Regions from separate parts of the Homo sapiens genome. Here region 1 is linked to region 2. The links come from fine-mapping of genetic effects on gene expression. A gene starts in region 2. The other region holds a variant in brackets. All regions are shown on one strand. Distances are from middle to middle. Region 1 overlaps COL6A5 (collagen type VI alpha 5 chain). Region 2 holds the start of COL6A5 (collagen type VI alpha 5 chain).

The links.
Region 1: its variant is fine-mapped to the expression of COL6A5 in lung (TOPMed, PIP above 0.99).

The regions. Positions count from the first base shown.
Region 1 is chr3:130,438,309-130,443,699 of GRCh38, reverse strand. COL6A5 (collagen type VI alpha 5 chain) reads right to left here. Exons shown (of 41, transcript NM_001278298.2): 34 at 4,085-4,178; 35 at 2,875-3,534; 36 at 134-224. Among named protein-coding and RNA genes, the nearest start is that of COL6A6, 76 kb to the left of the region's middle. RefSeq lists an enhancer at 895-1,452. The variant G/A (reference allele first, on the strand shown) is at 3,214.
Region 2 is chr3:130,343,304-130,348,694 of GRCh38, reverse strand. COL6A5 (collagen type VI alpha 5 chain) reads right to left here and starts at 3,023. Exons shown (of 41, transcript NM_001278298.2): 1 at 2,714-3,023.

The sequences.
Region 1 (5,391 bases), 95 kb before region 2:
GAAAATGGAATACATAAAATGTCTACTTCAGAGACCTTGTTAGCATCATCAGCCTAATAAAGTGTTATTAACCAGTTATACTCCCATCAGCCAATTAGCAGTCACTTGTAAATATAAGAGCTTTCTAACTTACTGGAAACCATCATTTTGAATATTCTCTCCTCCTAAATTGATGAGTCTACAGGCATCCTCAAGCATCGGTGGTGGGTACTGATTGAATCCCCCTATTGAGAGAACAAAGTTATAGTTAGATTTTAAAACTGGAAATGATGTTTCCTAGGTAAAGAGAATCCCAACAGGAATCCTCTTGAAGCAACTAATGTCACTAACATATTTCAGCAAAATTTGGCTGGGGTGAAAACAGAAAACAGCAGTTAGAAATAGCACTCAAAATTTGATTTCAGAGTGTTTTAGCAGCCAAAGGATTACCAGAGTCATGGAAACAGACCTCCTCAAATTGTTCATCTAAGAGCTAGTTGTGATGCAGGGAAACATGATTTTCACATGCTCAGGCTAACATAATCTAAGAGATACTCTATTCTGATTCATCAAAGGTTTTTCACCCAGACTTACGCTAACGGATCAAACAGAGACAAGGTAATGTTTCATTACTTGATACTGATATCATTTCTGTGCTTCTGCACCCACTAATACTGATTCCTATGAGGAAAAGAATCATAGACAAGATTTTACCTTACTGGTCTAAATAATATGCCTATTTATCCCCTTCCTGATGTTGTTCTATAAATTTTGGAATATGGAGAAGTATGTTACCCTGTCCCATTCTGGAAAATAAAAGATTTTAGTTAAAGAAGGCCTTCAGCCATTGACTGATCCAAGGATCTATGAAAATATCTCAAATAACATCTGTAGTTTTATAATAATCACATTTTCAAATACTAAGATAAGCATTTCTTTCCTTTTTTCTATTTCTTTAAAATGAAAATATATCTTCTGATTAATTGCATCTGACACTTACTGTTGGGTGGGCAAGAATTGTGATGCAGTGGTCATTGCCTGTGCATGTGGGAACAGCAAACATGCCAGCACCAAAACTTGTAGAATTGGGGAGAGCAGTTTGAAAACATTCCCATAAATACCAGCAGAGGAGCCTTTTCACTCCTACAAACCAAGTGGTTGTGGGAAGGCAGCGAATTGGGTGTGTTTAACACTTCCCAGCTGGAAGTCAACAGTAGGCTACTTCTACATGATTGCAAAGCCACTTAACAGCCCAGCATGACCATCTTTGAGTTGTTTTATAGTCTTTTACAAATATTGCATAATCATCAATCTTAATGGCACAAAGAACAAAATTGCATAGAAAAAAATGGATACCAATGACTCTGAGCCAAGAAGTAGCTCACAAGAGTCAAATTCTGAATCAGAAGTTGTTTTAGGAGTGCCTTAACCTGCCTATTTCACATAGATTTTCTTTTTATGCATGCACAGGAGTGATATATTTACTATACATCCAAAAGAACTCTTTCAATTGCTATAAAACAAAATGCTCTAATAGGAAAGTTGGTATCAAAATTTAATTGGAAACATTTTTTTCCTTTACATTATACAATTGAGGGCATCTTAGATGTAAAGAAATAACAGTGTTCCCAAGAGGGCAATTATTGGATTCTTTAATTGAATATGAATCACAGGAGAAAGGTGGAGCTCTCCTTGCAATGAAGAGTGAAGGCTCAAGACATTATCACTGTGGTGTTGTGGGGTGATCCTTTGAATAGCAAGGAAACTGGGATTGTAGAGTGGTGGAATTAATTCCAGCCAAGTTTACTTCTAAACCTGTCAGATTTCCAGAAAGAAAAGGTTCAGCTCTGATTCTGTGGGATATTATGGAGAAGTGTTTCTCAACATCAGTGTTATTGACTTTTGGGGATGTATTATTCTTTGTTGTGGTGGGGGGTCTGTCCTGTGAATTGTAGGATGTTTAGCAATATCCCTGACCTCTATTTACTTGATACTAGTAGCATCCCCAAGTTGTGACTGTCAAATAATGCCTCCAGGCATTTCCAAATGTCCCCTGGGGCAAATTGTGCCATATTGAGAACAATTGCTCTAGAAGAGCATTTTTCCAAACCATCTGTGATAGAGGACGAGGTATTCTTATTTCTAGTTCTTTGCAGACTGATACATCCTGTTCAATGAGACAGAGTCCACTGGTCATGCAACTGTACGCTGCAGCAATCAATGTCAAATTGCCTTAAAAGTTTCTAGATGTTTACTCTCAATTTGTGTGTTTATTTCTTTATACATCAATTTGTAGCCTGGCACTCATGCAATGAGCAACCCTTTGTAGTGCACTGGCCTAGAGCCATGTGATCCATGAACCAGCAGCATTGACATTACTGCAGTATCTGTTAGAAATGTAGAATCTCAGGCTTCACCCTAGATATCCTCAGTAAGAATATCCTGCATTTTAACAAGATTCCTGGGTGATGTGCATGCCCAGGACTTTGCTATCTTCACATCCTCACACAGGTCTCCAGGGTGTGCCAAAGTTGGAAATAAAACAGGTATAGCAAGTAAAACTTTTACGTGAATGTTCTTCTGAAATCACCTAACTGCTGCTAGAACTTCTTGAGCAAATGTGATTCATACGACCTCTAGTCACTCTGTGGCTTTCTAGTGCTGAGAGTTTGGCTAAAAGACACACTATCATAAAAAAAGGCCTCAGGCCTCACCATTTTGTGACCAGGATATAAACAGGGTATAACCAGCAAATGATCCATTCCTGCCCCTATCTCACCATCTAATTCATAAATTATGTTTAGATTAGCTATAGATACAAAAATAGGTTATCAATACTGTATTAACAAACACTAGCTTATTAAAAAAAAGACAAACAATGAAATAATAACTTACGCCTGACCGAGTATAAAAATGGCTTTAAGAACTTCGCAATATAATTCAGATCTGGTTTATGTATTCTCCCAAGCTGTATCAGGTGTTGATCAAGTGGGTAGCTGGCTAACTCCTCCATGTCATCCTTACGTGTAGAGCCCAGAGAAATCACAAATATGACGTAGCCTTGACACTTAGCCCTCAAAGCCATCATTTTTACAAATTCTTTTCTCTCATAATTTTCTCCAGCTGAGACCACAAAGATGACCTTGTGTTTTCTTAGATAGGGTGTTTCTGGAAAAAGATTTTCAGTGGTCCACAGTAGGGCACGACCAATTGTTGCTTCTCCATTTAGCTGTT[G/A]GAAGGAAGTCTGGATGTGATTCTTCATTAGGAGTTGGTTGTCATAAGTGATGAAATCAAACTCTGTTTTTACTGTACCCATCTTTCTCCTGGAACTTTCCCAAGGAGAATAGCTCAACAAAGCAATCCTATCACCAGAGTCTGAGATTAAAGGGTCTGAAGCAATGTTGAAGTTGTCAATCACTGAGCTCACCAAGGCTTTCACAGCCTTAAACTCATCCTTTGCTATATTCCGAGAATTGTCTATGAGGAAGACTACATCCATGTATGAATCTTCAGGTAAGAAAGCCTCTCGAATGCAAGCATTTGGAAAACATTTATCTGAAAACACACAGAGAGACACATCATTGGTTCAACACTGACCCAACAAGACACTTGTTTGAGATCTTCAAGTGACTCAGTGACTAATTACCAAGAATTATAATTTGATCAATATCTCTTTGATCTCACATAATTTAAATTAATGAGAAATTTTCAATGTCCCGGTACTTCTCCGGGCACTAGCAGACAATAAGGGAAGGGCTTTGTTGAAAGCAGATGTAGGTAGCACAGATACCTGCAGTGTACAAGTCATGTCCAAGCTCATTTAGGAAATATTTTTGATATTTTAGAGACTTCTGATACAAACTACCCAATTGTCCCCAAGAAATGCTACATTGGTTGGGATAATTTTCTAAACCAATTTTCACATTCTATGGAAACTCCAAACATTCCAGAGATTGAAACCATGACATATGGTATTGAAAAACTAGAAAACTGAAAATAGAACCTATGATTAAAAATAGAAATCTCTGGATAAAACCACATTCAATAACTCATCTAGAAGGCATTTAAGCTCTTCAGCACAGTCAATTCTCTTCATTGGTCTTACCATAGCAAAGTGCACAGCGCCGAAGTCTTTCTAATGTTTGATTTTCCCCATTTGGAGGAACTGGAATCACCTGAAATGTTCCAGTGTTGTCAAACTGCATTGGAAAAGAAGTGAACGCATGTTTGCTCATTGTTTTTAGTCACTAGTAGGAAACCACTTTAAGGATTAGTTTAAAAAACACCCAACTAATCACTATTACCTTGCATTATAGCTCTTTGCTCCATTCAGTGCATGTTCACACACACACACACACACACACACACACACACACACACAATCCCCTGCTTATCCCAAACATAACACAAAAAGTATCTATAGAACAAGTATCATCATCCCTAGATTATGATGAGAAAACTGCCATGAGATAACCTGACCAGATTCACTCACTGGGGCAAGTATTAAAATCTATCATTTCCAAGCCTGCAATTCTGGACTAAATTTGTACACACTTCTGATTATGCACCAGCTGATTATACACCACATGCCAGCTTTTGAAGTTGGGCCCTGCAGAAATTGTACGTTCCCAAGCTTCCTTTGGCCTCCGTGGGTAGTGATCCCAACTATTTCCAGTCCACTCTATCTAGAAGAAGGCACATCTCTCAGTTGTCAAGAGGACCCTCTCAATCACAAATTCCACTTAAAAGTCTATTTCAAAAAGCAATGGACAGAATTTTATTCAAAATTCCTGGTGGTACACTGTCTGATTTCTTATTTCCTGATTACTTTTTAAAATACTTTAATACTCACTGTAATGGGCAATATACAGCACTCATTCATTCATTCAGTGAGTCAATAACTCTTTATTGGGCATTTACTCTATGTGAGGCACCATGCAAAACAGATACTTTTATTATGAAAGAAATCTATCATTCCCAGGTGGTGAGGAGGCTATCTCTCCATCAACAAAGATGTTCATGCTTTTTCTCTTTCTCTCTGAGCAAATTAAAGGGCTAGAAAATCCAAACCCTCTGTTTTTCTGTAAAGTGCTGAATCAACATTGGAAAATATTTATAATCATTCCAGCCATATGTTTAGAAACTATTTACTACATTCCTACTCTCTATTTTTATTAAATTGGATGCTTTGGGTGTTATTTTGTATTTGACCTTGTTGGTCCCACATGTAAAGACTAGATGTTGACCTGGTAAACCAAGGAAGTTTATTCATAGGAGTAAACCCCATGCTCTTCATTCATTCATTCATTCATTCACTCATTCACTCATTCATTCAACAAATATTTATTGAATGCCTACAATGTTATAGGTGTAGTTCTAGGTTCTGGGGATATGAAAATAAATGAAACAGAT
Region 2 (5,391 bases):
GCGATTCCTCAAGGATCTAGAACCAGAAATACCAATTGACTCAGCGATCTCATTACTGGGTACATATCCAAAGGATTATAAATCATTCTACTATAAAGATACATGCACACATGTTTATTGAAGCACTATTTACAAATAGCAAAGACTTGGAACCAACTCAAATGCCCATCAATGATAGACTGGATAAAGAAAATGTGGCACATATACACCATGGAATACTATGCAGCCATAAAAAAGAATGAGTTTATGTCCTTTGCAGGGACATGGATAAAGCTGGAATCCATCATCCTCAGCAAACTAACACAAGAACAGAAAACCAAACACCGCATGTTGTCACTCATAAGTGGGAGTTGAACAATGAGAACACCTGGACACAGGGAGGGGAACATCACACACCAGGGCCTGTCAGGGAGTTGGGGGAAAGGGAAGGGAGAGCATTAGGACAAATGCCTAATGCATGTGGGGCTTAAAACCTAGATGATGGGTTGATAGGTGCAGTAAACCACCATGGCACATGTATACCTATGTAACAAACCTGCATGTTCAGCACATGTATCTCAGAACTTAAAGTAAAATTAAAAATAAAAAAGAATGGTTCCTTGGAGAATGGCAAGTGGCAATGGTTGTGGGTAGTGAGTTGTGTGCATGTTAGGGAATAGGCCAGAGGAATTTAGGGAAGTATCATAAAGCACCAGGGATTGATGGGGCAACAAAAATGTTTGCAACTGCCACATGCACCACCAGTCAGCCCTTCCTCATAAAGTAGGCATGCATCTCGTTTTATCTTAGATCCCAACTTTGCCCAGTGCCCAACTCCTCTTCCTTTGCACTTTCCACTTGCTCAGTGTGTACTGGATCTGAGATCCTACAAGATTGACAGGGGCATCATCAAAGCAAACTGCAATACCAAGAAAAGTACACATTCCAAGTGAATTTGTGCCCTCCACTCTCAGAGCTGGAGGATTCTGAGTATATGCTCCGGGGTTGAAAATTCTTCCTTTTTGGAAGATGATTTGAACTTGAGGAAGGAAAATCACAACATGAAATACAATGCAAACAAGACATATGTGTCAGCCTTACACTTCATTATAGAAGGATGCTAAGCATATGCTCATTGAATACTTATGAACAATTTCTGCATGTAGCTATGATTCAAGATGGGAAATATTTACAGTGGCAAACTTTATTTTCACAGGCTCATAACATTGCTAGCAATGGCTCCCAATTTTACTGACATTTCCAAAGTTCTTTTCAAACAGAGAGGTGATTAGTTTTTGAAATCTGTGAAAAAGCCTTTTAGATGTTTTAACTTAATATATATATATAAAATAATTAAATATAAAATCATTGTATTGAATGTTTTCTATGCTTTAACATATTAATAATAGTTCAATATCATAACCACACAGGGTCCTCCGGGGAACTACTTTAAGATAATGCTAGCAGGTTCCCTATCAAAACCTTACATCCTGCACCCACCCATTGAAGAAAAGGGAAAACTGAGAAATATCTGCAAATAAATTTGCTCCAGAGTCTCCAAGTAAGTCAGCAGTGGATTTAGATTTCATATTTTAAGTTAAGCCACTGAAAGGAGAATAATAATAACAACACAAAACCATTCATTCGTCATCAAAGATTAATGGCTCAGGTTCTCAGCAGTGATGAAGAGCCTGCCTCATCTGAAGGAGTTATTTAAAAACTTGGGAATTATCTTCTCTACTTTAATTCATATGAAATCTCAGGATTCCTACTTATTCTATTGGTAAATTGTAGCACTGTAAACTTAAATAGAAAAAATGGAAAAAAATCTTGCAGTGTGAATTTTTTCTTAAGGATTTTTGTTCAGAATTCACAAAGTAAATATATATCTTCCAAGATACCTAACCTGACACCCTGAGTTAACAATGATTAATTTCAGAACAAGCAGTTGAATACCAAAAAACAAAATAAATGTGATGTATGAAGCACTACATCAACTTATGAAGATCCTGGTAAGAGAAATAACACGCTACCAGCTTGGGGATCCTGAGAGTACAAAATTCCCTCCAGCACTTTGAAAGAACCTTACCTGGAGACTTGCACACAGTACAAACTCAGAAATAGTTGTTGAAGCTCTGAGTGCTGTTCTTAGGAAATCTCAAAGATCACAGTTTCGTTTGGGACAGAATAGAATTCCCACAAACCAAGAGTGTTTAGAAGTTATTTTTATAACTGAATACACCCCAGTATCTAATGCCTTTGACTCATTACCTACACACCCATTGCTGTTTATTTGGGGGTTCCTGCATTGGGGCTAGGGGCTCAAATGTAGGACTAAGTGACTTCTAAGGCAATGGTTCTCAAACTTTAGCTGCATCAGAATCCCGTGGAGGATTGTTAAAATACACATTCCTTATCCCCATTCCCAGAGATTCTGGTTCAACAGGGTTTTGTGGGGTCCAGGAATTTGCATTTCTAACAAGTTTCAAGGGCAAGGCGATGCTATTAGTCCTTGCATCACACTTCGGATAGCACTGCTCTAAGGTCCTTTCGAATTCTGAGTCTACCTTTCAGAACCTGTCTTAACCATCTGTAAAATTCCTTAGAGCTCAGATTTGGGGGCGTCAACAGGTGCAAATCACCAGAAAGGAGAATCCTTCTCACATCCACCTGTCTACTCGAGGTTTCCTCCCCCGCCTGCCTCAGGCCCCAAGTCCCCGCACCGCATACTTACCCAGCTTTCCCGGGGTCAGGGGACACTCCGGACCCTGGAAACCGCCCCCAACTCTCCAGAAGAGGCTGCACCGAGCTCCTGAGCGCAGTAAACGCGCGCCTCTCGGGCGCCCGCGGCGCAGTTGGATAGAGCGCGCGCCGGAAGCCCTGGTCCGCGCCGCACGCCCTGGTCCGCGCCGCACAGCTGCAGGTGGATTCCCGCAGCGAACGCCTCGTGCCCTGAGAGGGTCTTTTAAGCCGGCGCTGACCCGTGCCCTTGGCCTGGCTCTTCCCTGGGGCTTTTAACTCTTCACAAGTTTTAATGTGAGTGTCCAGAGACGCTCCAGCTGTTTGCTGGCTTTGTTTCAGAGAAGCCGCCGGCTGCCAAATGAACTTAGGGAGTCAGAATTTCTCAGAAACCAAGGGCAATCTTTACTAGCAGCCGAGCTGCGGTCACTTCTACTACTTAGACAGAGGAATCGCCATTTGGCTCCAAGTCCCCCAATTTCTCAGAGGCAGCCTCCCAACGAAAATGCCCAAGGAGGAGCAAAGTCCTGGGGGAAGCCCTACAAGAGAAAAAGTAACGCACCCCTGATGCTAGAGGCAGCAGGAGTTTTATCCAGCAACTTCTAGAAAGGGCAGGATGGGGAAATGGAGCAGGCAACACAATGAAGTTGTGATTTTTAGTACATGGATCATAGTGAAGAACTTGGAAAGCATAGACTATTCTTACATGCATGGCTTATTTTTTGTTGGTTTGCATGGACGTGTACTCAGGTTGAGATTTTATATTACATATCTGTATAACACCTGCCAGTAAATGTACTCCTAGCTTGAGTGGTTAAGTTCAATCAATCCATTGCTTCAGCCTGCTAGCTTCTTCAGGCTGTCTGTGAAGAGATATGTTACAATTACTTACACTGATGAAAGTTTATTAAAATGTCAAGAGGAAACATAAGACATGGGAGCTCACCCTTGCTCAGCAAGAACCCGATTCTGAGATTGCTTCTGAAGTTAACTAGAAAGTTTCTAAATATGTGTTAGAAAGAGTGGGTTGGAAGAATGAAGAGAGGGAAGTGTAATGAGGACTTTCAGGATTTTCTCCTTTTATTATTAAATTTTTTTTTTTCAAAGAGAACACAAATATGTGTAAACCAAAAACTGTTTGTTTTTTTTGTTGTTTTTCATTAATAAGAAAAAACTGATGTAAGTTGAAAATGGTTTTTCTAAAAAAAAAGTGTATTTTATCTATTTTGAATTCACTTGGAATAGTCAGGGTTATGGGGTGTTCTGCACAGAACATCCTGAAATCCTGGATTTGAATGCCAAGACTTGCCCTTCGGTATCAGTGAGTCTCAGATTTGTCCAGGTTTTAACGGAAAATGTTCCATTGGTCACCAGAGTGAAGCACAGAGAGAATCTATGGGCTGGAATATCAAGAAGCTAGAGTCTGGGGGGACAAAATATACATCTATTTCACATTCATGCCTGGCCCAGGCCGAAATTTTGCTACTATGATGTCCACATACCCTCAGTGTGTAAAGATTTATTAATTGAGATGTTCTTCCCCAACCAAGAGTAATGCCCCAAGGGAGAAAGAAGGCCTACTTTATACTTCAGGAGAAGGGTGGGGTTTTGCCTTCACAATTAGGGTAATATCCAAATAGTACTGAAGCCAAAAGGAAGTTGTGGGTTTGTGTTTTGGGGGTTCTTTTGTTGTTTAGAAACTTCTCTAGAAAGTATTATTGTAGAAATTTTTTTACTTGCAATATATTTGTGATTTAACTTTCACAATCATGAAATAAAAGTGGCTCCAGGAATCTACAACTTTTCCACAGATTTTAACATTTCCTTTCCTTTCTTCTGCTTATAAAATTGAAACAAGGTTTTCCCAAAATAAATCATAATGTGAAATTTATTCACTATTTAGAATTGCATTTATTCTATTAAGGATATATTAACTTAATTTACTTCAGAAAGTAGAAGTTTGGAGTTTAATATCTGAAGGAATTCAGGCACTAAAAGTGCCAACTTTTCAATTTTCTAACAGAATAGAACACAATTGAACTTACTTTATCTGACTTGGGTTTCACTTTCCATTTTCTCTAGAAAATAAAAAGATATTGAATAAAAGAAAAGTAATCCAGAATTTCAAAAGTGTGGAAAAGACATTAAATTTTTTTTCAGGCTTCATCATTAGTTATATTTGCCTTTTATTAACCCAACCTTCATAATCTGTATTTCTGCAGCTGTTTTAAATAAGAAGATAACATCAGAGTAAAAGATAGCAAATTCTGCTCTACCCTGCACTCGTTGATTCCCACTGGGAAATATTGATGGTATGTCTGCAAATGTGAAAACCGTACTATCAGAAATAGGCAAGATGATTTTGGATGTGAGATGATTTAAATGGAATATGATTAACTTTCTCATTGATGCAATCAGAACTATTAAAAGATAAAATAGCATTTTTCTTACATGTGACTCAATGTCCTTTGGTCATGCCTATATACCAACAGATAAAAAGTTAACAATTAAAATGCATTATCGATAACTGAAGCCAAATACTTTCCTCTCTGTGTACTAAATAATATTGGAATATAGTATACTTTACTTTCTCTATGTTTAAGCCATGCCGAAAATAAGCAAAAATGACTTAGCTACTTGCTTTAAGAAATACTTGCTCCTAATGGACAAGGC